Linked DNA regions of Homo sapiens. The protein of the gene in region 1 purifies or fractionates together with the protein of each later gene. This does not show direct contact. Each region holds a gene or a part of one and is shown in the gene's direction. Other genes may lie near its edges.

What was found.
Region 2: the proteins of ITM2B (region 1) and DGKE purify together in Homo sapiens (co-immunoprecipitation; one large-scale study listed by IntAct). This does not show direct contact.
Region 3: the proteins of ITM2B (region 1) and SEMA6A purify together in Homo sapiens (affinity purification with mass spectrometry; 3 studies listed by BioGRID and IntAct, with this or other methods). This does not show direct contact.
Region 4: the proteins of ITM2B (region 1) and TMEM219 purify together in Homo sapiens (affinity purification with mass spectrometry; 3 studies listed by BioGRID and IntAct, with this or other methods). This does not show direct contact.
Region 5: the proteins of ITM2B (region 1) and TGFBR3 purify together in Homo sapiens (affinity purification with mass spectrometry; 3 studies listed by BioGRID and IntAct, with this or other methods). This does not show direct contact.
Region 6: the proteins of ITM2B (region 1) and FERMT3 purify together in Homo sapiens (co-immunoprecipitation; one large-scale study listed by IntAct). This does not show direct contact.
Region 7: the proteins of ITM2B (region 1) and CHST12 purify together in Homo sapiens (affinity purification with mass spectrometry; 3 studies listed by BioGRID and IntAct, with this or other methods). This does not show direct contact.

What each region holds. Positions count from the first base shown.
Region 1 is NC_000013.11:48,256,655-48,260,874, forward strand, and holds part of ITM2B (integral membrane protein 2B), read left to right. Parts: intron 1-1,471; coding exon 1,472-1,582; intron 1,583-2,142; coding exon 2,143-2,293; intron 2,294-4,220. UniProt on the Homo sapiens protein: Plays a regulatory role in the processing of the amyloid-beta A4 precursor protein (APP) and acts as an inhibitor of the amyloid-beta peptide aggregation and fibrils deposition. Plays a role in the induction of neurite outgrowth.
Region 2 is NC_000017.11:56,832,232-56,837,223, forward strand, and holds the start of DGKE (diacylglycerol kinase epsilon), read left to right. Parts: upstream 1-1,919; 5' UTR 1,920-2,029; exon of another isoform or gene 2,030-2,238; coding exon of another isoform or gene 2,239-2,274; intron 2,275-2,546; coding exon of another isoform or gene 2,547-2,564; coding exon 2,565-3,028; intron 3,029-4,128; exon of another isoform or gene 4,129-4,992. UniProt on the Homo sapiens protein: Membrane-bound diacylglycerol kinase that converts diacylglycerol/DAG into phosphatidic acid/phosphatidate/PA and regulates the respective levels of these two bioactive lipids.
Region 3 is NC_000005.10:116,473,645-116,477,864, reverse strand, and holds part of SEMA6A (semaphorin-6A isoform 2 precursor), read left to right. Parts: coding exon 1-19; intron 20-2,261; coding exon 2,262-2,320; intron 2,321-4,220. UniProt on the Homo sapiens protein: Cell surface receptor for PLXNA2 that plays an important role in cell-cell signaling. Required for normal granule cell migration in the developing cerebellum.
Region 4 is NC_000016.10:29,964,883-29,969,102, forward strand, and holds part of TMEM219 (insulin-like growth factor-binding protein 3 receptor isoform 1 precursor), read left to right. Parts: intron 1-3,142; coding exon 3,143-3,372; intron 3,373-4,220. UniProt on the Homo sapiens protein: Cell death receptor specific for IGFBP3, may mediate caspase-8-dependent apoptosis upon ligand binding.
Region 5 is NC_000001.11:91,711,652-91,715,871, reverse strand, and holds part of TGFBR3 (transforming growth factor beta receptor type 3 isoform a precursor), read left to right. Parts: intron 1-3,329; coding exon 3,330-3,629; intron 3,630-4,220. UniProt on the Homo sapiens protein: Cell surface receptor that regulates diverse cellular processes including cell proliferation, differentiation, migration, and apoptosis.
Region 6 is NC_000011.10:64,216,068-64,220,287, forward strand, and holds part of FERMT3 (fermitin family homolog 3 short isoform), read left to right. Parts: intron 1-3,183; coding exon 3,184-3,291; intron 3,292-3,456; coding exon 3,457-3,591; intron 3,592-3,672; coding exon 3,673-3,722; intron 3,723-3,811; coding exon of another isoform or gene 3,812-3,823; coding exon 3,824-3,948; intron 3,949-4,152; coding exon 4,153-4,220. UniProt on the Homo sapiens protein: Plays a central role in cell adhesion in hematopoietic cells. Acts by activating the integrin beta-1-3 (ITGB1, ITGB2 and ITGB3). Required for integrin-mediated platelet adhesion and leukocyte adhesion to endothelial cells.
Region 7 is NC_000007.14:2,427,117-2,431,336, forward strand, and holds part of CHST12 (carbohydrate sulfotransferase 12), read left to right. Parts: intron 1-4,220. UniProt on the Homo sapiens protein: Catalyzes the transfer of sulfate to position 4 of the N-acetylgalactosamine (GalNAc) residue of chondroitin and desulfated dermatan sulfate.

The sequences.
Region 1 (4,220 bases):
ACATTTTCTTAGATAAGAGGTAATTTATGTTCCTGTTTCTTGGTAGCATTTTCAAAATCAATAATTTTGTTAATCTGTTTTTAAGTTCTCATTCTATATTTTTCCCCAGCTTTTGAGCATTTTTATGTAATGCAGAAAAGTTGAATACCCAAAATCCTCCACTTTGTTCCAAATATTGCCATATTTGCTTCATCTCTTTTTCTGTCATTTGACATAAGTACTTATGCTATTATCTCTCAAGAATGAGTTGTCCTCCTACGTAACCACATAATTATCACATCTAAGAAAATTAACATGATCTTATAGGACAGTAGTCCCCCCTTATCCGTGGGGGATACATGCCAAGACCCCCAGTGGATGTCTGAAACTGCATATAGTACCAAACCCTGTATATACTATGTTTTTTCCTGTTAGTGTACATATATACATATGTTAAAATTTAATTTACAAATTAGCCACAGTAATAGATTAACGACAATAATAATAAAACAGTTATAACAAAATACTATAATAAAAGTTATGTGAAGGTGGTTTCTCAAAATATTTTATTATGCTGTACTCACCTAGGTATTTGTGGACTGTAGTTAACTAAAGGTAACTGAAACTCGAGAAGCACAACCTCAGATAAGAGGGACTACTGTATTTAATATGTTTACATTTCTGTTTATGTTTACATTTCCCCAATTTTTGTCCCAAGAATTTTTTGTTTTTTCAAATCAGGATTCAGAGATTCAGAAGTTCATGTATCACCTGTGATTTTTATGTCTCTCTGTAAGCTTGCCATTTTGAACACTCGAATATATTACTGAAGTTAGCTTTGCAAACATTTCGTGCCTGATAAATACATCTGATGGATGTTTATAAACCAGTTTGAAAATTTACTTATTTCAAGGAAATAAACTTCCAAAGCAAATAGTAAATAATAATAGTTAACACTTACTGAGCTCTTAGGAATCAAAATGTTGACATTATTTGATTTAAGTTATTCTTAAAAACCGTTCTATGAGACAGTCTTTCTCAACCAGCGTTTCTCATTTGAACCACAGAACACAAAATCATTTAAATGACTGTTTTTCTAATGTTCTAAGGATGGTAGTATTCAAGATACATATGAGAAAATTTAATCTTTACAAACAATGGACAGATAACCTTAGAGGGCATTTGAGCTTATAAGTGGGGAAGTTAAATTGCTTAATTATATAATAAGTATTTGCAGTTAATTTGAATAGGTATTATTACTTATTATAGAAATATACCCTCGATGAGCATTTTATTTACTGGTAGCAATATTTTTTCCTCTCCCATTCCCACTTCCAACTTTATCCAGCCAAATTCTGAATTTGTTGAAATGCAAGTGATTTATACATTCTAAAGCCAATTCATTTTAATGATACAAATTATTCTTAAAAATCCAGTTGCTGCCTGTTTTTGCAAGTATTACTGTAACTACACTGTATCTTTTTCTTCCCAGAAACTTACAGCCTATTTAGATCTTAACCTGGATAAGTGCTATGTGATCCCTCTGAACACTTCCATTGTTATGCCACCCAGAAACCTACTGGAGTTACTTATTAACATCAAGGTATAAGAATGTTGACTGTTTTTGATGAATGATGCCTTCATAGTGTTCTGGAATTCCCTGTTGAGAAATTAGCCCTATAGGAGCCCATTTTATCAGACTGTAGTTAAGAATTTTACAAAGAGGAACTAATACTCATGGTTTTTGTTTTTAATGTTTTATATCTTGAAATTGAAATAAATTTCTCAAATAATGTTTTAAGTTTTCCTAAAGAGCCAGGGAGTAAATATTAGCCAACTACTTAATTCTGGTGCCATAGACAATACGTAAAACAGATGAACATGACTATATTCCAAAAAAAATTCTACTTATAAAAACAAGCCGGGGGCGGTGGCTCATGCCTGTAATCCCAGGACTTTGGGAGACCTAGGTGGGAGGATTGCTTGAGGCCAGGAATTTGAGACCAGCCTGGACAACATAGTGAGAACATAAACAAACAGATGGTGGGTAGTAGTTTGGCAACCTGTTCCATACCATAATGTGTAAGAATTTTGTCTTGTTTCTCTAGTCTACTCAGTGTATGTTCTGAGATAGTCATGTCATGTATTCTTTTCTGAATGTAGGCTGGAACCTATTTGCCTCAGTCCTATCTGATTCATGAGCACATGGTTATTACTGATCGCATTGAAAACATTGATCACCTGGGTTTCTTTATTTATCGACTGTGTCATGACAAGGAAACTTACAAACTGCAACGCAGAGAAACTATTAAAGGTAATACTTTTTAAATATTAAAGTGTTGGGCAGAAAAGTTCATTGCATTAAACTAGATTTAGGTGAAGCCTAGTCATTGTTACCAATATACCTGCCATGAGTGAGGTAATATTGTGTCGTTATATAATATTTCCAGGTTTCTATAGAATTATCTTAATTCCATTTAGTAAGTCCACTCTTTTCAGGTGGAGAGAAAAGGTCAATGTGAAATGTCATTGCCTTGAGATGATGGTACCTCATTTTCCATCTAGTTAGTCACCCTGTCCAACTTCCCATCCTACCACTTTGGTTGAGCCATACTGAAAGGGTTTTTATTATCCAGAGGGTGTCTTGGGACCAGCTCTTCAGCTGTGTTTTCAGGGATCTGGATTCTAAGCAGGCTGTTTGCCTTTTGGATCATATTGGGAATAATCACTGTCAGGGTAGTTGGAAAGGAATTTGGGTGAAGAACTAAGAGCATTGATACAACTAATGTTGTAGCTTTGCCAAATCATTTAACTTTTATTTTCTCACCTGAAATATAAGAATTACAGTATCTCCCCATTTCCTTTTAAGAGCATTGTGAAAATAAAAAGAAAGTACATGTGGCAGCTGTGGAAAGTAAGAAGTGCCATTCAGATACACTGTGGTGTGATTTCTTTGGAATTGTGTCACCCAGTAAAAGTGCTTTCCTGGCTTTTTGCTAGCATTTTAAATAATACTGTTCTCTCATCTCCGGCGGTTGAGTCATCTGAAACCAGCTTGATTTCTTTTTTTTTTTTTTTTCCAACTTTTATTTTAGATTCAGGGGTACATGTGCAGGTTTGTTACAAAGGGTATATTATCTGATGTGAGGTTTGGGGTACAGATGATCCCATCACTCAGGTAGTGAGCAAAGTACCCAATAGGTAGTTTTTCTTTTCTTTTCTTTTTTTTATTATACTTTAAGTTCTGAGTTACATGTGTACAATATGCAGGTTTGTTACATAGGTATACAGGTGCCATGGTGGTTTGCTGCACCCATCAACCTGTCACCAAATTAGGTATTTCTCCTAATGTTATCCCTCCCCTAGGCCCCCACCTCCCGACAGGCCCCAGTGTGTGATGTTCCCCTCTCTGTGTCCATGTGTTCTTATTGTTCACCTCCCACTTATGAGTGAGAAGATGCAGTGTTTGGTTTTCTGATCTTGTGATAGTTTGCTGAGAATGATGGTTTCCAGCTTCATCCACGTCCCTGCAAAGGACATGAACTCATCCTTTTTTATGGCTGCATAAAATTCCATGGTGCATATGTGCCACATTTTCTTAATCCAGTCTATCTTTGATGGACATTTGGGTTGGTTCCAAGTTTGCTATTGTGAGTAGTGCCACAGTAAACGTACATGTGCATGTGTCTTTATAGCAGCATGATTTATAATCCTTTGTGTATATGCCCAGTAATGGGATTGCTGGGTCAAATGGTATTTCTGGTTCTAGATCCTTGAGGAATTGCCACACTCTCTTCCACAATGGTTGAACTAATTTACACTCCCACCAACAGTGTAAAAGCGTTCCCCAATAGGTAGTTTTTCAACCCTTACCTCCTCCCTCCCTCCCTCCCTTCCTTATAGTCCTCAGTATGTATCATTCCCATCTTTATGTCAGTGAGTTCCCAGTGTTTAGCTCCTATTTATAAGTGAGAGCATTGTAAGGTAGGTATTTGGTTTTCTGTTTCTGTGTTAATTCATTTATGATAATGGCCTCCAGCTGTATCCATACTGCTGCAAAGGACATGATTTCTTTTTTATTGCTGTGTTGATTTCTTACATTTTAAAATTCTCTTGGTTCATAATTTTTTTTAAAGTCAGCCTTACACGTGCCATGAAATTTACCCTTTTTAGTGTGCAACTCTGAGTTTCCACAAAGATACACAAGGTCTTGCAAGCACCACCATAGTCAAGATACAGAA
Region 2 (4,992 bases), on another chromosome or scaffold:
CACAGCGCCCGGCCTAAACACATAGTTTTTAACTGCTCAAAGCTGCATCCATAGGATGACCCCAGACCCCCTAAAGTATCTTCCTGGGAAAGCTGCCAAAAGAACTCACTGTTGGCTATTGCCAACACCTTACAAGCAGCCCCTGATGTCCCTTTCTTAAAGAGTTAACAACAACAACAAAAAACTAAACAATTGTGAATCCTTCCTCTGTCTCTCTGGGATGTAATGTCTCCTACACATCAGGAGTATCCTTCTCAAGAACCTGAAAGCCATTCCTCCAACATGCAATCACCAGGAAGCAAAGGGCCTATCTCCCAGTTACTGTGGGAGGATAGGACCCTGACTCCCATAACAGCCATCTAACAGGCACTGTCGCCTAACCTTACTTACACTGACCCACCCTTCACAAGTTTCACTTTCCTGACTACTGAGTTCCTGCTCATCCCCTTCACATTCCCTCCTCCTCCCTCTTAAACACCTAGTCACTTCTGCACAAAGTTCAGTTCCGTTCACGAGGTACCTTCTTCCCTATTACAATAGTATATTATTAAAATCTGCTTTACCACTTTTACTAGTGTCTAGCTTTATCTTCTACAGTTAATACAAATATACGCACATACACATGCATATATATGCACACATAATAATATATACATACACACATACACGTATATATACATCTATATGTGTATTCTTAATGAATGTTATGTCTTCTCTAATCGTTTGGAAGATATTATCAAGTATTTCTTTGCAGTTTTCCTATGATCTCTGCGTTTCTTTTCTGTTCCTTTGGTCCCTTGCTTCGGTGTGTGTTTTCTTTCCATCTTTTATGCTAGAGGAAGTCCGCAAGCAACAAGTGGTCCTCGGCTCCCACTCCTATGTATGTATGTAGTAGGAAGGAAGCCGCTGAGTGCAGCTGTGCGCGCCGGGGCGGTGCCTGTGCCTCTCTGGATTCCGTGTTTCTTCGGGGGTGCTGAGCAGCGGTGCTTCCGCGTCCGCGTTCTCCGGGTAGCTGATGTGCTGCAGGCTGCAGCCCGCGTGGTCGCGGCTCAGGTCCGTGTTGGGCTGGTAGGACTCCAGCGGGGAGCGAGCATTCCTCCGGAACCTGGGGCTGGACGACAGCAGCAGGAGGCGTGCTCCCATCTCCGGTAGTCCCCGGCTCCCGCTGCTCCCCTTTCTCCCCGGCCTCGGGCGCTGGCGGGCGCGGGCGAGGGGGTAGCGCAGGGGAGGCCCGCCCGCCACGGCAGGGGGCGGAAACCGCGGCCGGGCTCGGGGTCAGCGGCGACGAGCGGGCGGCTGCCCCGCTCGCCCTCGGCCTCCGCGCCCGCCCGCCGCTCCGCAGCGGAGGAGCCCTCAGGTTTGCGTTACTGCGGCCGCCACACCTACCTCAGCCCGCCGCGGCCAGGTCGGGCGGTGCCGCGCAGGCCGCCTCCCCCCCTCGCTTCCCAGTCGGCTTACGCATCCCCGGCGGCGGCGGCGCCGGCATCGGCTAGAGGTTCGGCTCAAGTCGGGGGCACTCGTGTCTGCGCCGAGCGGCGGGCGTGAGCGCGGCCCCTGGGCCCCGCGCGGCGCGGTGCTGCGAGGAGGATCCTCGTGGCCTTGCCCCGCCGGCGGCTTTCCAGAATTTTCTACGATTACGAAGTTTTGGCATTCAACCCTCCATCCTCTCAAACGCCCCACTGTTACTCCGCCCCCTTCCCCTAGGCCCCGCCCCCAGCCGCAGTGCCCTGCCTCTTCCATCCGTCTCCAGCCTCCTCCACGGCCCCGCCCCCTCAGGCCGGTCCGTCTCCCCTCCCACCTCACACCTCCGCCCCGCCCGTCAGCCCTGGCTCCGCCCAGCCACGGGGCTCGCCGCCACAGGCCCCGCCTCCAGCTCGCGGCCCCGCGCGCCGGATCGGCGTGCGTGCGGCTGGAGCCTTAAGCGTTTCCCCCGCCCGGCTTCATCCCTGCTGGCGGCCCAGCGTCGTTCTCCTCCTGCGCGAGGCGGCCAAGGCCTGCTGGCCCGGAGCCGCGCCTCCACCCGCGCGAGGTAGGGCTTCGAGGACCGGCGCGGCGCAGGTCTCCGGAGGCCTCCCGAGAGGGGCTAGGGTCGCCGGGCCGCGCGTGGGAGCGGGTGGGGCCCGGGAGGAGACGGCGCCCCGGAGGGGAGTGCGAGGCCTGGGCCGACGGTTACGGGCGCCGACCGGCGTTGCCTGGCCTGAACGCCCGGCCTTTCGGTGGAGGGCAGCTTGCCCCTGTATGTTGCGCCCTTCCGTGGGTCAGACCGGCGGCAAGGTGAGGCGGCGGCGGCAGCAGCAGCCGCCTTGGGCTCCTGGACGCGCTCCCGAGGTGGGGCGGGTTGGGGAGTGGGGATTGGAGCGTGATGGCTGGACGTCGCCTTCTCGGCGCGGCAGGTCCCGGGAGACGGGGGGACGAGGCGCAGTCCCGCCCTCGGGAGAGCGGAGCCACCTTCACTGAGGGCGCCCGGTTTGGCCCCGGAAAGGCAGGAAGGGGGCGGGGAAGGGATGGCGAGCTCGGGGTGCACCGCCTGTTTCTTTTCTGGTTAGGTATCGTCCTTGGAGAAGATGGAAGCGGAGAGGCGGCCGGCGCCGGGCTCGCCCTCCGAGGGCCTGTTTGCGGACGGGCACCTGATCTTGTGGACGCTGTGCTCGGTCCTGCTGCCGGTGTTCATCACCTTCTGGTGTAGCCTCCAGCGGTCGCGCCGGCAGCTGCACCGCAGGGACATCTTCCGCAAGAGCAAGCACGGGTGGCGCGACACGGACCTGTTCAGCCAGCCCACCTACTGCTGCGTGTGCGCGCAGCACATTCTGCAGGGCGCCTTCTGCGACTGCTGCGGGCTCCGCGTGGACGAGGGCTGCCTCAGGAAGGCCGACAAGCGCTTCCAGTGCAAGGAGATTATGCTCAAGAATGACACCAAGGTCCTGGACGCCATGCCCCACCACTGGATCCGGGGCAACGTGCCCCTGTGCAGTTACTGTATGGTTTGCAAGCAGCAGTGTGGCTGTCAACCCAAGCTTTGCGATTACAGGTATGGTCTTCGTGGACACTCACTGTCCCAGAATGCGCCGTGGGAATCAGGATTTCATAGAGTGGTGTAGAGGCCTGCTTTAATCTCTGCTGATGACCTAAACTCATTTTGAGGAAACAAGCTAATAAATAAACATCCCTGAGTTTGTGCAAGCGTGGCAGCTTTGCAGTAGTCATTTGCTGAGACGATGCATCCAGCCTCCACTCCTCAGCCAGCCTGCCCTTTTGGGTAATAAAACTTGGCTCCTAACGTTAATACAGAGGTTTCTAAGTGGTGCCTGCTTCATGGCCACTGTATATTTTAGCTTTTGTTCCTATCGATTATCTCCTTATTTTAAATAAGGAAAAATGAAATATGGACAAATTAACTTTTCCCTTCAGCCGCAAAACTGATGGGTCACAGGTTTTGTACTATGAATGTGCAGTGAAAACAAGTGTCATTCCAAGGCAGCACTTTTATGTCTTTTGCTAATATAGCTGTTGGTACCATAGCGAAATATACTCAAAAAGAACACTGAAAGGAATATTCCTTTTGACGCTTGGTCTTTCAGGACATGTAGAATCTTAGATAAGTGACCTTGATTAAGCCAAGAATATTTTAATGTCTTTTATATACACACTGGACAACACATTTTTGTCCTTAAATATTGTTTGAAAATAGGTGAAGATGTCCTTTGCTGATGTTGGAAATTGGTAAAGGAGAATGCTGCTTTGCAAATGATCTATTCTAACTCAGTTCACAGTTGAGAAAATTAAAGCCCGTTAGGTCCACTCTGGTAAAATAGGACTGGCCTCCAGGATTTCCAGCTCTGGACTAACACTTAGCCTCCTTTGAGCCTTAAGTCTGGACATCTTCATTGTAATGGGTTTTATTTCTGACAAGTAGAAAGGCGCATAAACATGCTTAAGAAATGAAATAGGCAGTAAATAGGAAGCTGCTTTTTAATTTTTTTAATTTTTTTTGCAGAAATTCTTTCATTAGCATGAACGCTATTATAATGTCAATACCTGTTTTTAAGTCTTATTTTAAATAATTTTACACATTATCAAAGAGGCTTAAGAATAAATGTTCAAAATAATGTATTCTAGACAACTACAAAGTTTTGTAACCATGCATTTTTATTTGGTATCTTTAAAAATTAAATGCTGTCCTTCTGGCATCAGTGAGAGCCAAGTTAGCAGGGACTTTAAATAAATTTCATAATGAATTGAGTATTGTTCTATTTCCTTCCCTTCTCTGGTGTAGCCTCCAGCAGTCTGTGTCTGTGCAGAATTATATTAAAAATGGTTTCCATAAATAACCGTATTTCAAATACTCTTGAACACATAATCATGCTTCTGATCCTCCACCCAAATGATCTTTCTAAAAATGCAAATCTGATCAAGTCCCTGCTCTGCTTAAAATCCTTTAAATTGCTCCCCATCGGGTAAGCTGACTGTTTTACAGTGTAAACCCCTAAGTGCTTTTTCACAGGGTACATAAGGTCCTAGTACTTTCTGGCCTCTGTCCTTTTAGTTTTATCTACCACCACCTGCATTAAACTTTATGCACCAGCAACACTAAGCTTCTTGTAATTTCCTTAAAACGTCAGGCATTTTCTGACATTTCTGCCCCTTTGCTCAAAGCTTTCCTCTCAGTATTCTTCTGGCTAGCTTCTAGGCACCCTTAAAGACCCATCCCATGTCCTTGTCCTTTCCTTCAGGAACTCTTACCTGATCTACTCAGCTTCCCTCCTCCCCCAGTTTTTCCTTTTTGGTGATAACGTAATATCCTATATCTCAGTGGTTCTCAAAGTAAGGTCCCTAGACCAGCAGCATCAGCATCTCTTCAAAATCTGTTAGAAATGCAAATTCTAGGGTTGCTAGATTTAGCAGATAAAAATAAAATATTGCAGAATTTGGAACATAAAAAGTTTCTCTGAAATTCAAATTCAACTAGGCATTGCCGTTTTTTTGTTTTTTTTT
Region 3 (4,220 bases), on another chromosome or scaffold:
ATTTATCACCCAACAGCAGGTAGGCAGCCTGAGGTGTGGGAGAGGGTGAAGTGGCTTCCAGCCAAGGTGTATTCTAGATGTAAGATTTGCTCTGCTCACACACACCACCACACAGCTTTCTGTGCAAACTCCAGCAACGGGACTGTCAGCCTTTCTCCTACCCTTTCCCATTTCATAGAGCCTCACCACATCACATGTGGCAGATTTCCAATTGATTAATCATCCTCGGACTGATTAAAAACACAGAATGGAAACACAGTGGGCTTCAATGTATTCCCTGGAGAGAGAGACAAGAAGGTGCCTGCCTTGATCATCATGGTGGGAGAAAAGCAGAGAAAAGGAGCAATAGGATACCAATTAGATTAGTGAGTGGTTTGTCCAGCCATAGCAAAACCGGCTTTTGTAATTGACTGTGCAGGGCTGAGAAGAAATTGCAGAACATTTGTTAAGCAATGTAATTGTACTGCAAGCATGGTGTATACATCCAATAAACCTTTTCCTGCGCTGAAGAACAGTTGACCCTATTACTCATCAGGCCGTCAATCAATTCTTGGCAGTTCTCCAACAGATCAGCTAGATGAGGCCAGTCCACCATGCCTATGATTTTGGTGTTTAAAATTGTTACCCTGGCTTTAAATGCTTAGATGGCATTAGCTAAGAGGTTTCTTTTTATGCTTTTACTTCAGTGGATGTGAAATCCAAAATAAATTTGCAGAAGTATTCAATGTTTATCTTTGATGGGTTGTGGCAGGCAGTTTAGGAGGTTAGACAGCACAGATCTTTCTTCAACACAGCCATTTCTTCAACCTCCTCAGATCCAAAGGGGGAACAGAACCATCTTTAAATCACTGTGAGCCTCCCTTCCTATTTCAGAATAGCTAAACAAACAGATCAAGGGCATATCTGATGACCACTACCTGCATAATTTGAGGACAAGTACTCTCGTAAACAGAGCTGATGATAACTATAAAATCTGACCTAGAAATTTGACTAATGCAAAAGGTTGAGTCTCTGTATATTATTAGAACAGCTTTGCAAGTAGCATTATTGACATGCTATAATCTTAGAGCTCTGTACCTTTGCATGGGAACCCTCAAGGTGGAGGAGAAAGGATCACAAAGCATGGTGAGGGGAGCTATGAGATGACCTATGTCCTTTCTATGTTCAACATGTGACCGAAGGCTATAAGACTGAATTTTAAAAAATTATTGTTAAGTCAATATAAGAACCCCAAAATAGTTTCCTTAAGGTTTGCATTCATATTTCAATGATGCTGGCATTGCTTAAAACATGGGGCGTTCCCTTTGGAGAGTGGGCTCCAGGGCATGATGAATATTGGCTGTCATTACCACTAGAAATCTTCATCTTTTGAGGGATTTGATTTTTAATGTGGCAAAAAAGATTAGAAACCAAACACGGTGGATTATTAGATCAAGCTGTGACTTTCAAAATAGTTTTCCTATACGGCTCATAAATAAACTCTGAAAGCAGTTGCAAAATAAGAGTTTCAATTATATTATGGGAATATGTACAAAGTGCCCCCAAAGGAAGGTGACTCTGGTGTGCTTATTTTAAAAATCAAAATAGCTTTTATTAAAATTGGTTTTGTTAATGTCATGTTGCTTGTACAGCCCAATGGTGACCTAGTAGACTTGGAAGAAACATGAGCATGTCAAAGAGAATGAGAGTAATACTCCCAAGGACTGGGGCAGGGCTGGGAGTGAACAAATAACCAAGCAGTCTCCACAAAATGCACCACCGGCTCCTGTCCCCTCACTTGGACCTTTGAACACTTTATCGTCCAAGTTTTTGGCTAGATAAATGTCTAGGCAAAAAACCTTGCCTAGGAAGGCAAGGGTAGGAGTGAAAAAGAGAATAGAGAAAAAAAGATTTTTCTTTTTAATTTATAGACTTCCATATTGTTTCTATGAGGCGTGTATTTTAACATCTAAACTTCTTAAATGTTTAAGAAATGCTCAGAGAATTAGAGTAAAGAAGGATGTAAATAATCTGCAAGCTAATTATCTCCCTGAATAATATCTGAATTCACTGCTTAAACCATGGCTTCTCTTTGGAGAGTCACCTAAGACTCGTTTCTATAAACTTCAGAGATAAATTTTAAAGCTGTTATGTATTTCTTTTTTGCACCTGCCACTCAATTTATCAAACTGTGTTACTGTCTTTAGTGAAGCTTGACTCATTTCTGAAGACTCACGTTATTGTATTCATTTCTGTCTCTCTTTCCCTTCCTTTTTTAAAAGACTGACTTTTGAGCAGGACATAGAGCGTGGCAATACAGATGGTCTGGGGGACTGTCACAGTAAGTACAGTCTTTTATCCATTTTTATCTTTGGGCAAAGATGCTTTCAGTGAATGGCCTAGAAACATCAGCTCACATGTGGAACTGAGTGCAGCTGACACTAAAGCATGCGTAAATGACGGAAATCATCTTCTAAATACCAAACAAAGAAAGCAGTGCGTTCTAAAGCCAGTGTTGTCAATGTTGTCACTATAAATGCTGGCACCTATTTCATTAATTCTAATGCAGGGGAAAAAATTCACCCTAGAGGATATTAATTGTAGCAAAGCAGTAAGTTAAATCAGCATTTCCATTACAAAATGACAGTTTTGCTGTTTTTAAAAACATGCTTTTATACTGTCATTTTCCGCCAAATAATAATAAGATTGATCATTGTACTCTAGCTTTTTAATTGAGTGGGCCTGTTTTATTCTTGAACATATCGACTAACAAAAGCAATTATGTTTTTAAATTAGATTTGTGTCTATTACCATATGTAATAGGAAAAAAAATTTCAGAAATAACCCACAAGTACAAGGCAATTCAAAATAATCTTTTTATAGGAATTGGCCTACTATGTAAATCTCAGAGATAGTTATTAAATGGTAACATTTTAGTTAGAACTTTACGTAAAGGATCTGGCTCAAATTTCTGCCCAGTTGTCATGTGACCCGATTAATATCAATATTCTCCTGAAAATGCTTTATTAATGCTAATTTAAAGAATAATACCATACTCTTGGAAAATATGTTTAGTTTGTGCTGTTTCGAATGTTATATATGCTGAATTTCAAGAAGCTTGCATTCAAAATGGCACCAAATAATAGCTTCTAAGGGAATGAAGCTATATTATCCTGATATTTGATTCTATAACGGAAGTCACGGACATAACTCTAAATCTTTCAGTCATAAGTACTGAAATTTCAGACTCTAAAGTGTCATTCAACTTTCTACCTTATCTTTTTTAGAGATTAGTTATAATCAAATAAAGAGGGCTAAAGGCAGACTTATCTCCAAATCTTTGCCATATACATATTTTTCATTTACAAATATTATATATTGGCAAAAATTCTTATTATGTCTTACACACAAAATTGATGAGTTAATAAATAAGCATAGGAGAAGTGTCATCACTAAAAGATGTATGTTACGTGTGTGCGTTCATCCGTATCAGGGAAATAGTTTGATGTTTGATCAGTGGACCTTAATCATCTTGGTGCATTATAGCTTTATTTGCAAGGAAACAGGTTTTAAGATGTGTGTGTGTGTGTGTGTGTGTGTGTGTGTGCATGCGTGCACGCTTTATTAACAGCTTAGTTAGCTGATGTTAATGAGCTATTTTCATCATATTTATATTACTTGCAATAGTGGTGTCTGTAGAAAAATAGGGGTGTAGATTTGGATCAAATCAGAAAATACGTGAAACATGTAAAGATGGTTGGTACTGTGTCTATAAAATGTCCACTATACCAGTAGGCTCACACCCTTATCTGTGTTCTCAGGCAGAAGAACCTAAGGAAGCCTCTGTATGTAGCATAGGGGACGCTCTCAGGTCCCAACCCTGTGCTTTACTCTTTATTTCCAGAGTAATCTTAGTGGTCAAGCAAGCCCCTGGATCTGCCTTCGTGCTTTGTAGTGTGCCTTTGACCTTTAACCCCACTCTTGCGGAGGCACTTGCCAAGGGTGCTTGCTCGGGGCAGGAGGTAAGGCTGCCCCTCTGCCTGCCTGCCTTTGCTCATGGCTTCTCCTCTCCCCGTGTTCCTGCTGAAGCATGAACTACCTCTATTAGACAGACCTATCCCCACATAGGTATTCAGGGAGGATTTCTCTAACTGGTACAATCATTATAACTGGTACAAAATTAACAGGATTTTAAAGGGAAATGAGGAAATCACAAAGAGCCAGTGTTAGAGGCTGAGTGA
Region 4 (4,220 bases), on another chromosome or scaffold:
AGTTCTGATGTTCTTTGAGTCTATCCTTGGAGGTAGGATGAAATGGGCTAGGTTTGACCTAATGTTTTCTCATCCTTTAGCCACCTCCTCCTAGAGGCCCCTTTTTCCTTAGCATAGTTCTGTATGCCACAAAAGATGCAGAAAAAAATTAGACACCATCAATTTCCAAAGAGCTATAGTCTTCTGGGAAAATGACAAGCGATAGGGAGAATGTGAAAATGTCAGTGGATGCCAATAATCCCTGTGTGACATTTGGCCTTATCTAAAATATGCTAAGATAAAGAGGGATGGAAGAGGGTGGTATTTTCTGACTTCTGAGGTCCTTTACAACACTATCATTCTAAGATTCTCCTGTGAGTATATATGTGTCGGGGGAGTGGGTCTCTGCATGTCCAGATGTACATGTATGTTAACAAAAATAAGGAATGTGTCCGATATATGCAGACTTGGGACAATTCTTTCCCATTCTTTTTACTTTTAAATAGATATATAATAGTTTTATTGAGATATGATTCATGTACCATACAATTCACCCATTGAAAGTGTACAGTTAGGGCCGGATGTGGTGGCTCATGCCTGTAATCCCAGCACTTTGGGAGGCCAAGGCAGGCAGATTGCTTGAGCGCAGGTGTTCGAGACCAGCCTGGACAAAATGGCAAGACTCTGTCTCTACTAAAAATACAAAAAAAAAAAAAAAAAAAAGCCAGGCGTGGTGGTGCACACCTGTGGTCCCAGCTACTTGGGAGGCTAAGGTGGGAGGATTGCTTATCCCTGGGAGGCAGGGCTTGCAGTAAACATTCTCCTGCCTCAGCCTCCTGAGTAGCTGGGATTACAGGTGCTCGCCATCACGCTCACCTAATTCCCGCCCCCCAGCCCAAGGAGTCTTGCTCTGTCACCCAGACTGGAGGGCAGTGATGCGATCTCAGCTCACTGAACCTCTGCCTCCCAGTTTCAGGAGATTCTCCTGCCTCAGTCTCCCAAGTAGCTGGGATTACAGGCATGTGGCACCATGCCCAGCTAATTTTTGTATTTTTAGTAGAGATGGGGTTTCACCATGTTGGCCAGGCTGGTCTTGAACTCCTGACCTCATGATCCGCCCGCCTTGGCCTCCCAAAGTGCTGGGATTACAGGTGTGAGCCACTGCGCCTGGCCAATTTTTGTATTTTTTATAGAGATGTGGTCTCACTATGTTGCCCAGGCTAGTTTCAAACTACTGGGCTCAAGTGATCCTCCTGCCTCACCTCCCAAAGTGCTGGGATTACAGGCATGAGCTACCGGGTCTGGCGTATTACCCAATTGTTTTATTTACTTTCTCTTGATTGCTAGTAAGGTTGAGCCTCTTATGGTTTATTGTCTGTATTCATGTTGCCTGTGAATTACCTGTTTGTTTCCTTTGTTCCTTTTTCTTTTAAGTTATTTGTCTTTTTCTTCTTGATTTGTAGGTCTTTATTCTAGATAGTAAACCTTTTGTCATTTAAATATATTATAGGTATTTTCAATATGTTACTTGTTTTTTTAACTTATCTTTCATTGCATAGAAGTCTTTAATTTTTATGAGGTTAGGTTTATCACTCTTGTCCTTTATTAAAACTTTTAGGTTTTGTGTCTTTCATAGGAAGCCCTTCCTCATTTTAAAATTAGAAAATATTCTGGCCAGGCGTGGTGGCTCATTCCTATAATCCCAGCCTTTGGAAGGCTGAGGCAGGTGGATCACCTGAGGTCAGGAGTTCAAGACTGGCCTGGCCAACATGATGAAACCCCGTCTCTACTAAAAATACAAAAAATTAGCCAGGCATGGTCGTGGGCACCTGTAATCCCAGCTACTCACAAGGCTGAGGCAGGAGAATTGCTTAAACCTAGGAGGTGGAGGTTGCAGTGAGCTGAGATTGCACCACTGCACTCCAGCCTGGGCAACAAGAGTGAAACTCTGTCTCAAAAATAATAAAATAAAATAAAATAAAATAAAATATTCTGTATTTTCTTTAAATACTTAAGTTTTTTTTTAGTTTGTATAGTTCTTTAATACATCTGAACTTTATTTTATAAGATAACAGTTTGACGCTATGTTTTTTTCTACATGGAAATTTTCCCAAGGCCATTTACTGAGGCCATCCTTTCCCCACTAATTTAAAATAGGGTGAGAACCTTTTAATGGATTTTGGTACCAAGTGAGAAACTGCTTTCTTAAAAAGAATGAACTAGTTTATGCAAACTGACATGGGCAATGTGTATCTGCCCATTTCACTGCAGCCTTGCGAGTATTAGTATGGTTGTTGTATTGATTGTAATTTAAGTTAATTTAAATTACAACTTAATTTGTGTTTATATTGATACAAAGTTATTTTCATTTCTCAGTGATATAAATAATGGTATATGGAATACTTTATTGAATAGAATCAATGCCAAAACACCTGGTATTATAGAAAGCCTTAAAAAATGACTAGGGGCAGGCGTGGTGGTTCATGCCTGGAATCCCAACATTTTGGGAGGTCAGGGTAGCAGGATGGCTTGAGCCCAGGAGTTTGAGTCCAGCCCGGGCAATACAGTGATACCCTGTCTCTACAAAAAAATTTTTTTAAATTAGCCAGGTAGGTGGCACACACTTGTAGCCCTGCCTACTCAGGAGACTGAGGTGGGAGGATCACTTGAGCCTAGGAGGTTGAGGCTCCCGTGAGCTGGGATCGTGCCACTGCACTCCAACCTGCACGACAAAGTGAGACCCCATCTCAAAAAAATAAAGAAAGAAAGAAAATACAAGAAAAGGGCCGGGCACGGTGGCTCACGCCTGTAATCCCAGCACTTTGGGAGGCCAAGGCGGGCGGATCACGAGGTCAGGAGATCAAGACCATCCTGGCTACCACAGTGAAACCCCGTCTCTACTAAAAATACAAAAAATTAGCTGGGCCTGGTGGTGGGCACCTGTAGTCCCAGCTACTCGGGAGACTGAGGCAGGAGAATGGTGTGAACCCGGGAGGCGGAGCTTGCAGTGAGCCGAGATTGCGCCACTGCACTCCAGCCTGGGTGATAGAGCGAGACTCCGCCTCAAAAAAAAAAAAAGAAAATACAAGAAAAGAAGCGTGAAGACAGAGGCTCCCGCGTCACCTCTCATTTTCTTCCATTTTCTCTTCTGTGCCTTTCACAGGATCTTCTGCAGGACAACTGGTCCTTATCACAGCCAGGGTGACCACAGAAAGGACTGCAGGAACCTGCCTATATTTTAGTGCTGTTCCAGGAATCCTACCCTCCAGCCAGCCACCCATATCCTGCTCAGAGGAGGGGGCTGGAAATGCCACCCTGAGCCCTAGAATGGGTGAGGAATGTGTTAGTGTCTGGAGCCATGAAGGCCTTGTGCTGACCAAGCTGCTCACCTCGGTAAGAGCCTCAGATGGGTCGCCAGGGTTTTGTAGACTGCCTGCTGACTACTGTATCTTGAAGGTCCCTGGAAACAATTCTACCTTGTAGAAAAAGCACAGGTTTTATAACCCTGCCTTGGGGGCTGTGTGACGTAGAACAAGTGTCTAAACATCTCTGAGTGTCAGCATCCTCATCTGTAAAACAGAAAACATGACCCTATCTCTTAATTCCATCAAATAAGGATTAAATGAGAATGACCGTGAAGTGCCCAGCACATTGCCTGGGACATAGAGATTTGATAAGTGACAGCTATTGTTGTTTACTATTGTCTTTAAAACATTCTCTCTACTTCAAAGGAGTTCAGAAGCTATAATAAGAGGCAAATGGGCTAATTGCTATTAGAGAGATGTGAGCAAAGTGTTATGCAAACACAGAGAAAGGAGCCATTAACCCTAACTTGAACATTTATGGAGAGTGCATCACAGAGAAGGTGGCATTTACCAGAGAGCATTGTGCACAGTGGTTTATAATGCACAAAGTGCTCTCAGGGTTCATTAATTCATTTGATCTTAAAATAGCCTTTTGAGGTAGGTGTTATTATCCCATTTTACAGATGAGGAAACAGGTTTAGAGAAAGGGAGTGAATTGCTGCAGGCCACACAACTGGTTAAGTGGCAGAGCCAGGGTTGCAACCCACACCTTCTGTCAAGTCAGAATGATCCTTGAAGAATGAGGAAGATTTGGACAGGGACTGCAGTAGAGGAGGTTCAGGAGAGGGGGAGGTACACTCCAGGCAAAGGCACCAGCATGCGCACAGGCCTAGAGATTGAAAAGTGTTCAGCCAGGTGTCACATCTGTAATCCCAG
Region 5 (4,220 bases), on another chromosome or scaffold:
TTTATTTCTTTTTTTTTCCCTGCACAGTCCCCTTAGCCCCCAGCAGGGCAGCCAAATCCCTGTGGGTCCATGCCGCCACTGAAACTGACTTGTTATCTTTTAAATTGCACTCACTTTTAAGTGAAATGCTATGTGCTATTATAACTCATGACATTTTTTTTTCTAGATCATGATCTGAGTATCTGTATAAACTTATTTAAACTATTTCCTATATATAATGTTAATAATCATGTGCAACCTAAATCTGGAATCTGGAGTGACTACACAATATTAGGCAGTGGCGGTAATAATGAAATAACAACATCTAACATTTGCTGCAGATTTATTATGTGCCAAACAGAGTTGTAAGTATTGCAGCAGTTAGTTAACTCTTTAGAGCCATCCTATAAGGGAGGCTAATAATATCTTCATTTTATGGATGAGAAAATTGAGGCACAAATTTGTCTGAGGCCACACAGCTGGTACTAGTGGAGTTCAGATTCAGTGCTCATAGGCCGTGTGACTCCAGAGCTCTGACTGATCTTCGCTGGATACGACTATCACTTATCTCCAAAGTGCCATTTGAAAGGGGAGAAAACATAACGTCTTATCAATGCAAACATCCAGGTTCAGAGAGTGGATTCTAGAAAAGATAAATGTCCTTATGGCACCAGGATGTCTGCTGTTTCTTGTGCCCTGGGTACAACCTTTCATGTTTCAACCTTAGTGTTTCAAGTGGGCATATCATCTGTTGGTCTTATGGGAAGGTCCTCATCTAATGAGCTGGTTTTGGTGCTCAGCTGCAAGCTCAGCTTCATAGTGGGAGGGGTGAGAAGCTTAAAGGGTCAAAGTGGGGTACTTCCATATGTTAAAAGTGACTTTGGTGCACGTGTTTCTGTTTTGGAAAGACACATAACTCTCACATTCGCACTGACTCTGGGACAGAGCCCGCTGGCGCTAGATGTTGTTTTCCTTGATCATATGGATTCTGCCCCTCCCCCATTCTGAGAGTTCTCTTTCTTTGAGCACACCTTCTTTCTCCATTGGGGAAAATATACTGCCTTCTACATGCTTTTCCTAAGCCAAGATGGCTGTTTTTCTCTTGCTTTTCTGGCTGTACAGTTCACATGGGCAGTTGGTCAACAGCACCCTATTGCGCTGTGGATTTCAGGGGTGCTGCATAATTGCAGATTGTTCTTTTCCAAATCTATGCCTGGCTTTGCTGATTTATGCTAATCAGTGGTCAATCTTCCTCCTGTACCTTACCCTGGATATTTTGGGTTTTTTCCCCCATCCTTCAAATGCTGGCTTACTTGAAGTGTGTTATTGGTAGTTTTTTTTTTCCATTCTTGTTTTCCCATTTATACCTTTTCATATATCACCTATATTTCTCATAGTTTATCCTCTATTCCCTCTACACCATACAGTCCCTTTCATAATCCAAGTTAACAGTGTTGCCACCTGTTCATTGGTCATCTCCAGGTGACTGTTGGTCACATAATGGCAGTTTTCTTTTGGTTCATTTGTCTTGGGGAATTTACAAACCCAGTTGTTAATAACCCAAAATTTTAAATCTAGAATACTACTATTACTAATAGGTAGCATTTATTGACACTCTGGGAACTGTGTTGTTTGCATGTAACTTTTACTTTGCTAGTTTTCACAATTATGATATCTTGTGGGTATTCGTGTTCTCATTCTGTAGGTGAGTAAACTGAGTCTCGGTGCCCAGCACGTGAGCAGGAGAGCATGTAATTTTTATGAGCTCGTCTCACTACAAAGCCCGTAGTCCTTCTCCTACTCACTTCTGGTCTAAAAGTAAAATCCTTTTTAGTAAAAGATTTGCTGATAATTTATATATATAAACTATATATACATAAAATATATTAAAAAATAATATATATTTTTTCCCTCTGCTACAAAGGTATCCCTTTTTGGGATACCTTAGACATTCTGCCGCTACATACTTTCTTTTGAGATTAGAGAAGAGATTTGCAGTCCCTCTGTTACACATTTTGGCATGTGGTTTCTGAGTTCATGTTAAACGGCAGTTTTTAGTAATAGCACATATGTAATTTGCCACCTTTCCAAGATAGAATATCTTGTTTTTCAGAAGTATTGCAAAAATACTGAAGTGTTAGTATTTACAGAATGTCACCACAGTGACATTATCAGAATCCTCTTCATTAGCATTTTCACTGTTGAGTGTCCTGCAGTTAACCACCACGTAGGAATCTTTCACAACAGTGCTGCGGATTCAAAGCCCCATGTGATGTCAGGGGTTTCCCCTGGGTATCTCAGCGTGGAAAGTCTGTTTCTATCTCCATGTCTTTTGAAATGATTCTGCGGCTGTTGGTCTATGGGTAAGGACTAGCTGTTTCTACAAGTGTTTAAGTTTATTTTGATCCTAAATTTAGTCAAAGAATGAGGCATAGCAGGGAGGGGCAGTTCATGCAGTGATCCACGTGTCACCAAATGGAGAATCTCCTCTGGTCTGGGGATTTTAGCTAAGTTCAGGATAGTTGAGGTTTGAATTCTGTTTACACTTGGCTAAACATTACTTCCTGTTTCTAAGGAAAAGAACCTTAACAAAATTTGGACGTAGCCCATACAAGTGTTTTCAAAGGGGGAAGTATAAATGAGTCGGAAACGTTTCCAGATTAGATTTCCCCTAAACTACCCCTGGGCTTATGGAGCGAAGGGGGAGTACTTGGCAAGGCTGATTTGGATCTGTGAGCAGCTGGGACACTTTACCAGGCCCATGATGGCCTCCAGGTTGCACCGTCACTGACACCCAGCGCCGGAGCCAGCTCTGCCTTCTCGCCGATGAAGCAGGACTCTCATCAGGCTTACTCTGACTTTTTGCAATTTAGAAGCTCAGTCTTCCTGCCTAGGTTAAATAGATTTTGCCGCTGAACTCTATTTTTTGGTCAGTCTTTAAAAAGAGCTTAGCTTATAAGTGTTGTACTATTAAAACATTAGGGACTTTGCCTACTGGTGTTTTATTTACTTCGGAAAATCCACTTTAAATGCAAAATATGTTTTTATTTTTAGCTCTCAGAGGACTCATTGGGAGGTGGAAGAGACTTACTCATCTTGTATTTGAATCTAATGGACTAATATTTGAAAGAAATAATTCACTGTCATCATCTATATCAAATTGAAGTGGAAAATATCTTTTTCTTTCAATGTGTGTGTGTTACTTTTGTAATTAGAAAGAAGGCTATAACTATGTTATGAAGATAAAGCAGCGTGTCATCTGAAGGGCTGTCTTGGCATATGGTCCTTGTGCCTAAAGTGAAAGTGAGATGCTAACTCATTTCCTAATTCATCTTTCTGTTCTTTCATAGGTATCTGTTACTAAGGCTGAACAAGAACTGGGATTTGCCATCCAAACGTGCTTTATCTCTCCATATTCGAACCCTGATAGGATGTCTCATTACACCATTATTGAGAATATTTGTCCTAAAGATGAATCTGTGAAATTCTACAGTCCCAAGAGAGTGCACTTTCCTATCCCGCAAGCTGACATGGATAAGAAGCGATTCAGCTTTGTCTTCAAGCCTGTCTTCAACACCTCACTGCTCTTTCTACAGTGTGAGCTGACGCTGTGTACGAAGATGGAGAAGCACCCCCAGAAGTTGCCTAAGGTTTGTGGGCCTTCATCCATTCGGATGGTTATTTTGGCATTTTTAGGTGAGGCAGAAAAGTTTAATCCCAAGGTCTTGCAGGTTGAGGTTTTTTGTTTTGGAACTGCCCAACTGAAATATTAAAGTCACTATTAGCAGGGAACTGTGAGTTTTATGGAGTCTTAGATAATAAATCCTGACAGCATGAGTTTCTTTTTTCCATGCGTGCTACTTAGTAGTACCTTACGAGTGATAAATCAAGACGCTTTTCCATGGAGGGAGATTTCTGGCTTTATCTTTGCTTTTCAGATAGTTTGCAGGCCAAAAACACAGCAAGCCGAAAGGACAAGTTCATTGTGAGAATTAATTTTTCCAGGTCCTGCTGGGACTGGCATTGTCATTGTTTTTTAACCTTTTCTGTGTGAAATATAAGGTTGACTTGTCTCAGGGAGACTTCTAGGGGAAACTAACAAATATTTTAGCTTTTCTCAGTTTCATATCAGTTCATCATATTTGCCTCCTGTCACTCTCCAGATTGAATGTTCTATTGCCATAACAAAAAGCAGAACCATTTGACCTTGGTGGAATGCATTTGATAGGGGAGATCTGCAA
Region 6 (4,220 bases), on another chromosome or scaffold:
ATGATCCGCCCGCCTCGGCCTCCCAAAGTGCTAGGATTACACGCGTGAGCCACTGCGCCCAGTTACATTCCTTTAAAAAAAGAATATTCTGGTCTTGATTTATGAGTGCAGTGCTTTAGCTCTGTAAGGATTTTTTTTTTTTTTTTTGAGATGGAGTCTTCTTCTGTCACCCAGGCTGGAGTGCAATGGCAAGATCTCGGCTCACTGCAACCTCTGCCCCCCTGGTTCAAGCCATTCTCCTGCCTCAGCCTTCCGAGCAGCTGGGATTACAGGCATGCACCACCACGCCTGGCCTAATTATTTTTGTATTTTTAGTAGAGACGGGGTTTCACCACATTGGCCAGGCTGGTCTCAAACTCCTGACCTCGTGATCTGCCCGCTTCAGCCTCCCAAAGTGCTGGGATTACAGGCGTGAGCCACCGGGCCCAGCCTCTATAAGGATTTTTTCGCCGGGCGCGGTGGCTCACGCCTGTAATCCCAGCACTTTGGGAGGCCAAGGAGGGCGGACCATGAGGTCAGGAGATCGAGACCATCCTGGCTAACACGGTGAAACCCTGTCTCTACTAAAAATACAAAAAATTAGCCGGGCGTGGTGGTGGGCGCCTGTAGTCCCAGCTACTTGGGAGGCTGAGGCAAGAGAATGGCGTGAACCTGGGAGGCGGAGCTTGCAGTGAGCCGAGATCACGCCACTGCACTCCAGCCTGGGTGACAGAGCGAGACTCCATCTCAAAAAAAAAAAAAAAAAAAAAAGGCGGGTGCCACCATGCCCAGCTAATTTTTGTACTCTACAAGGATTTTGATTCACGTTTGAAGTTCTCTTCTGCGCCCTACCTGGCCTTTATTTCCTCCAAGCTGTTTTATTCTTGTTGTCTTGGTCTCTATGGTTCACTCTTGAAGCTTTCCTTAAATGTGGGTAGTCCATGCCTGTCCATTCATATTTAAAAGTGAAGCTCTAAGAAACCAATTGGAGACCCTGAGTGTGTGAGTAGGGCTTGGCATCTTGGTGGCCCCCTGGAGGCGATGGGGCCGGGCTGCCACTCTTTGTCGGGCATTTCTCTGGTGGCTCAGCCTCTCAGTGGCAACCCCACTGATCTTTCAACTGGAGATAGAAGGCTTCCTGCCAATGTCTTGGGTGACAAGTGGGAAAGGGTGTGGGTGTGTCACTCATCTGAATGCCAGCTTTCTTTAAATTTGTGTTTTTGCCGGGCACGGTGGCTCACGCCTGTAATCCCAGCACTTTGGGAGGCCAAGGCAGGTGGATCACCTGAGGTCAGGAATTTGAGACCAGCCTGATCAACATGGAGAAAGCCTGTATCTACTAAAAATACAAAAGTAGCTGGGCGTGGTGGTGCATGCCTGTAATCCCAGCTACTCAGGAGGCTGAGGCAGGAGAATCGCTTGAACCCGGGAGGCGGAGGTTGCGGTGAGCCAAGATCGTGCCATTGTACTCCAGCCTGGGCAACAAGAGCAAAACTCCATCTTAAAAAAAAAAAATTGTCTGTTTTCACCCTAGTGCAACCCCCACCCCGTCCAGCTGTGTCTGGGGTACCAAATGCAGGGGTGCATCTGGCTCAGCATCTCCAGAGAGTGAGTCCCAGCTTCTGCCAGGTGTCTCCTTGCCATCACTTGGCTGCATGGAGCTGGGGAGGGACCTGCTTTTTTTCTTGGACTTTATCCAGAGTCCTCTCTTCAGCTCACCCTCGCATCTCATCCAGAGGATCCCCATCAGAGCCTGCCAGGGGTCCGCCATGCAAACTGGATGCCTCTGTTGAGATCTCTGTTCTTTTTGCTGATTGCTTTCCGCCTATTTTCAAGTCTCATTGGTGGATTTACCAGACAGGAGAGGGACAAGGCGTGAGGCCCTAGCGCTCTCTGCATAACCCAGTTCCCATCTACAGTTTGCTCTCCATCTTCCAAATTATTTCCTTTTTCCTTTTTTTTTTTTTTTTTTTTTGTGACGGAGTCTCGCTCTGTCGCCCAGGCTGGAGTGCAGTGGCACGATCTCGGCTCACTGCAAGCTCCGCCTCCCGGGTTCACGCCGTTCTCCTGCCTCAGCGTCCTGAGTAGCTGGGATTACAGGCGCCCGCCACCACGCCTGGCTAATTTTTTTGTATTATTAGTAGAGACAGGGTTTCACTGTGTTAGCCAGGATGGTCTTGATCTCCTGACCTCGTGATCCACCGACCTCGGCCTCCCAAAGTGCTGGGATTACAGGCGTGAGCCACTGCGCCTGGCCTTCTTTTTCTTTCTTTTGGAGACAAGGTCTCACTCTATCCCCCAAGCTGGAGTGCAATGGTGCAATTACAGCTCACTGCACCCTCAACCTCATGGGTTCAGGTGATTCTCCCACCTCAGCATCCTGAGTACCTGGGACTACAGGCACGCACCACCTCATGTGGCTAATTTTTTGTATTTTTAGTAGAGATAGGGTTTCACCATGTTGCCCAAGCTGGTCTGAAACTCCTGGGCTCAAGCTATCTGCCTGCCTTGGCCTCCCAAAGTGCTGGGATTACAGGCGCAAGCCACCGCCCCGGCCTGTCCTTTGTCCTTTTGGGTTTATCTTCCTAAACCTTTGCTATCAATTTTGGGTGAGTTTCAGCGGGATTGTTGGTCTTCTGTGGGTAACTGGGATCCCCTCTTGGAGTCTCTGCCTTCCCAGTTCCTTTTCTCTGGAATCCTCTTCCTTCACGCTTCCCTTGAGTGGCCCACTGTCATCCTTCCTATCTCTACTCAGCTTGTCACCTCCTCAGGGAAGCCTTCCCTGACTGCTTCCCCATGTTCCATTCTGTCATCTCCATTGAACTTGGGGGGGCCTTAGACTGAGGGCTCATGTGAGCTTCCCTGTGGAAACTGTTTCCTTGATAGTGTTTATTGCAGCCTTGGATTATTTGACTTATTGATTGGTTTACTCGGTCTCTCCTGCACCCAGGGCAGCATGCCAGCACACAGTAAACATCAGCACAACCAAGCCAAGGTTTAGACGTGCAGGCCTGGGCAGCAGGGGGCTAGCAGGCTATTAAGGATGGGGTTGAGGTCTGTGGCCCATGTCTGGCCACTGAATGAATCTGCCTCAGCAAGGAGGGCAGGGCAGAGGGCCAAGGCTGGCAGGGGCTCAGTGCAGGGCGTCCAGGGCAGCTGGCATCTGACCAGCCCAGCCTCCAGCCTCCTCTCCCCCCGCTCCAGACAGACCCCGTGCGGCTGACACAGCTGTATGAGCAGGCCCGGTGGGACCTGCTGCTGGAGGAGATTGACTGCACCGAGGAGGAGATGATGGTGTTTGCCGCCCTGCAGGTACCAGGCGGGCCTGGGGGCACCAGGGCAGGTGGGAGGTGAGCCAGTCCCAGGGCAGGAAGGGCCTTCCTGAGTGGGGGCTACCTCCAGGGAAGCCCGGCCTGGGGGTACTGCTAGGGGACCAGGCTGCTGGACTCAGCCCTCCCTGGCTTCATGACCACCTAGTACCACATCAACAAGCTGTCCCAGAGCGGGGAGGTGGGGGAGCCGGCTGGCACAGACCCAGGGCTGGACGACCTGGATGTGGCCCTGAGCAACCTGGAGGTGAAGCTGGAGGGGTCGGCGCCCACAGATGTGCTGGTGAGGAGGGGCTCAGGGCAGGGGCTGGGCAGGGAGAACTGTGAGGTACCGGGTGCCCCTCTGACTCTGGTCCTCCCATAGGACAGCCTCACCACCATCCCAGAGCTCAAGGACCATCTCCGAATCTTTCGGTGAGTTGGGGGCCAGAGTAGGCAGCCCTGCTGGAGGGGTTGGTCTGCATATGGAGGGAGGGGGTGAGGCGGCCTTTCACAAACCCCAGCATCCCACGAAGGCCCCGGAAGCTGACCCTGAAGGGCTACCGCCAACACTGGGTGGTGTTCAAGGAGACCACACTGTCCTACTACAAGAGCCAGGACGAGGCCCCTGGGGACCCCATTCAGCAGCTCAACCTCAAGGGTAAGTGCACAGGGCCAGGGGCTGGGTGGGGGGATCCCCACTTGTGGGCTAGGCAGGTGAATGCTCTCACCGGCCCTGTTTCCTCCTGGAGACCGGGGAAGATGCCCTCTGTCCTGAGGTGACGGTGTGGGCTAGGATGCACTCCAGGACCTCAGGCGGCTCTTCCCCTCCCGACCTCCTAGACCACCCCTTCTCTCCCTCCAGGCTGTGAGGTGGTTCCCGATGTTAACGTCTCCGGCCAGAAGTTCTGCATTAAACTCCTAGTGCCCTCC
Region 7 (4,220 bases), on another chromosome or scaffold:
GGAGGTTGCAGTGAGCCAAGATCATGCCACTGCACTCCGGCCTGGGTGACACAGCGAGACCCTGTCTCACAAAAGAAAAAAGAGAGAGAGAGAGACATACAAATGTAAAAATACTCAGTTTAAGAAATTCATAGCACTTTGCGAGGCCGAGGTGGCCAGCTTGCTAGAGCCCAGGAGTTCAAGACCAGCCGGGTTAACATGGTGAGACCACAACTCTATAAAAAATTTTTAAAAATTAGCCCGGCCCAGTGGTGTGTATCTGCAGTCCCAGCTACTTGGAAGGCTGAGACGGGAGGATCACTTGAGCCTAGGAGGTCAAGGCTGCAGTGAGCTGTGATTGTGCCACTGCACTCCAGCTTAGGTGACAGAGCAAGGCTCTGTCTTGAAAAAAAAAAAAAAAAGTTTACACATTTGTTTGAAGATGAAAAGTTCAACACAGTTTGGGCCTTCCATCTGCCACCCCCCCCTACAGAGATGATAGAAAAATGGTACAGCTGTAGGGTGTTTGTAGATGCCCTATAAGTTGAGGATATCCTCTTTGCTAAGTTTGCTGAGAGTGTTTATAATGAATGGATATGGGTTTTGTTGTTCCTTCCTGTAGGAGTTGATTTTTTAGCTTGTTAATATGATAGATTACATGGTTGATTTTTGAACATTGAGCCGTTCTTGCATACCCTACTTGGTCATGCCGTGACTCCTTTTTGTTTGTTTGTTTTTTGAGATGGAGTCTTGCTCTGTCACCCAGGCTGGAGTGCAGTGGTGCGATCTCGGCTCACTGCAACCGCCACCTCCCAGATTCAAGCGATTCTCCTGCCTCAGCCTCCCGAGTAGCTGGGACTACAGGCACCCGTCACCATGGCCAGCTAATTTTTTGTATTTTTAGTAGAGACGGGGTTTCACCGTGTTTGGATCTCCTGACCTCGTGATCCACCCACCTCGGCCTCCCAAAGTGCTGGGGTTACAGGCGTGAGTCACTATGCTGTGATTCTTTCTATACACTGCTGGATTTGGTTTATTAATATTTTGAGCATTTTTGCATCCAAGTTCATAAGTGATATTGGCCTGTAGCTTTCTCTCTCTCTTTTTTTTTTTTTTTGAGACAGAGTCTTGCTCTATCACCCAGGCTGGAGTGCAGTGGCACAATCTCGGCTCACTGCAAGCTCTGCCTCTCGGGTTCAAGTGATTTTCCTGCCTCAGCCTCCTGAGTATCTGGGATTACAGGCGTCCACCACCATGCCCAGCTAATTTTTTGTATTTTTTAGTAGAGACGGTATTGTGGGATCTGGCCAGAAGCCCACAATGCAACGGGGCTCTTTTATTTGTTCCCAGGCGGATCAGCAGGTCGAGAAATAATAGACACACACAAGACAGTGAAAGCTGGGTCCGGGGGGTGACCGCCTTCTGGTCCTGCGATGCCGCCAATGCACTGGATATACCAGCATTTATTATTAAGTTTAGTGAGGGCGGGGGTAGGTTAGTGAGGGATTTAGGGTCATTTGATTATGAGGTGAGATGGTCACATGGGGATGAAGTAATTCTTTAACATAACATCTGTATGCAGAAGTACAGTATACAGAGATAAGAATTTACAATATAGCATGTGCATCAGTAATTTCTAACAGCCTTAAAACAGAAACACAGGCTTTCCATAACCTATGATTAGCAAGATATTAATCAGCAGTAATAGTTGCAGCAAAAGCTGGTTACAAACAATCCATAGAAACAGGACGTGAAGCTAGACAGCCAGTTAGACCAGAAATTCTCAGAAGGGAGTATGCCTTAACCCTAAAGAGGCCTAGAAGAGCCGTGGCAAGATGAGGGCGTTTATAGCACTATCTTATCCATATGGACAGGCGCCCCCCATGCGTCCGTTTGTAGGCTCTCCACAAGGGTCGCATTCCATTCCCAGAGCTATGAACATCTGCTTTTCTGGGATAGGAATCTTGGTGATGTGAAAGCTCCCTGACTGCATGTCCGTTCATAGGCTCTCTGCAGGGGGAAGCATATCACGTGCTGTTGGCTCATTCTGACAGTCCAACCTGGCATTGTCTTTACACAATCCTGAATGCAACTTTGTATTTACAGTAATCAGGAGCATTTCATCTTTTATTCCATAGCAATAGTTTCAGGGGGTCTCCCTACAAGACAGGGTTTCGCCATGTTGGCCAGGCTGGTCTTGAACTCCTTGACCTCAGGTGTTCCTCCTGCCTCAGCCTACCAAAGTGCTAGGATTACAAGCGTGAGCCACGACGCCCGGCCTCTTTTTTTTTGTACTTATTTTCACTGGTTTGGGTATTAGGATGATGAGTTGGACATGTCCTCTCTTCTCCTTTCTGTAAGAGATTGTATAAAATTGATGTTGTTATTCTTTGAATGTTTGATAGAATTCTTCAGTGAAACCATCTGGGCCCAGAGATTTCTTTTTAAGGAGCTTTTACGTTACAAATTTAGTTTCTTTAATTAGTATAGGATTATTCATTTTGGTAGTTTGTGGTTGTCAAGGAATTGGTCTGTTTCATCTAGGTTGCTAAATTTGTGGGCGTAAAATTGTTTGTAATAGTTCCTTATCCTTTCAATGGCTGCAGGATCTATAATTTCATTCCTTGTCTTGTTCCTGATAAAGATAATTTGTAGGTTTTTTTCATTTGTTTGGTTGGTTTTTTGTTTTTGTTTTTCTTTTGAGACAGGGTCTTGGTCTTGCTAAGACCAAGGCTGGAGGGCAGTGGCACGATCTCGGCTTACTGCAGCCTTGACCTCCTGGGCTCAAGCGATCCTCCTGCCTCAGCCTCCAGAGTAGCTAGGACTACAGGTGCATGCCACCATGCACGGCAGATTTTTGCATTTTTTATAGGGATGGGGTTTTGCCATGTTGTCTAGGCTGGTCTTGGACTCTAGGGCTCAAGAGACCCTCTCGCCTCGGCTTCCCAAAGTGCTAGGATTATAGGAGAGAGCCACCGTGCCCGGCCTTTTCTGCTTTCTAATGCTCTTGGCACCACAGTGACTGTAACATATGTTGTATTTTCATTCTCATTCTATTCTGTGTACTTTAACTTTTTCCTTTGCTATTATTTAGAAATGTGTCATTTATTTTCCAGGAATTTGTGTTTGTGGATTTTCCTGTTGTCTTTTCTGTTATTGATTTCTAGTTTTATTCCTTTATATAAAATATTTCAATTCTTTTATTTTTATTTATTTATTCATTTTTATTTATTTTTTTGAGATGGAGTCTTGCTCAGTCACCCAGGTTGGAGTGCAGTGGCACAATCTTGGCTCCTTGCAACCTCTGCCTCCTGGGTTCAAGCGATTCTCCTGCCTCAGTCTCCTGAGTAGCTGGGATTACAGGCGCCTGCCACCATGCCCAGCTAATTTTTGCATTTTTTTAGTAGAGACGGGGTTTCACCATGTTGGCCAGGCGGGTCTTGAACTCCTGACCTCAGGTGATCCACCTGCCTTGGCCTCCCAAAGTGCTGGGATTACAGGCATAAGCCACCATGCCCAGCCTAAATTTTGTATTTTCAGTAGAGACAGTTTCACCATGTTGGCCAGGCGGGTCTCCAACTCCTGATCTCAAGTGATCCACCTGCCTCGGCCTCCCAAAGTGCTGGGATTACAGGCATGAGCCACCACACCCAGCCTAAATTTTGTAATTTCAGTAGAGACAGGGTTTCACCATGTTGGCCAGGCTGGTCTCCAACTCCTGATCTCAAATGATCCACCCGCCTTGGCCACCTGAAGTGATGGGATTACAGATGTGAGCCACCGTGCCCTGTCAAGATTTCAATTCTTTTAAATTAGCTGAGGTTTGGTCTACCATGGTGAATGTTTTGTGGACACTTAGAAAAAACTGTGTTCTCTTGTTAGGTGAGTGTTCTGCATATGTCGGTTATGTCCTGTTGGTTGCTGGTGTTGAGTTCTTCTGTATCCTTGCTGATTTTCTGCCTCATAGTTTTGTCAGTTATCAAGAGTGAAGTGTTGAAGTCTCCAGCCATAATTGTGGATTTGTCTGTTTATCCTTTAGCTCTATCGATTTTTGCTTTTTGTATTTTGAGGCTCTGTTGTTTGGTGCATACATGTTTAGGATTGTTATGTCTTCCTGGGGATTGAACTGTTTGTCATTATGTAATGTCCTTTTGTCTCTAGTAGTTTCCTTCCTTCTGAAATTTGCTTCATCTGATATTAAGATAGCCACTCCTGCTTTCTTTTCATTAATATTTGCATGA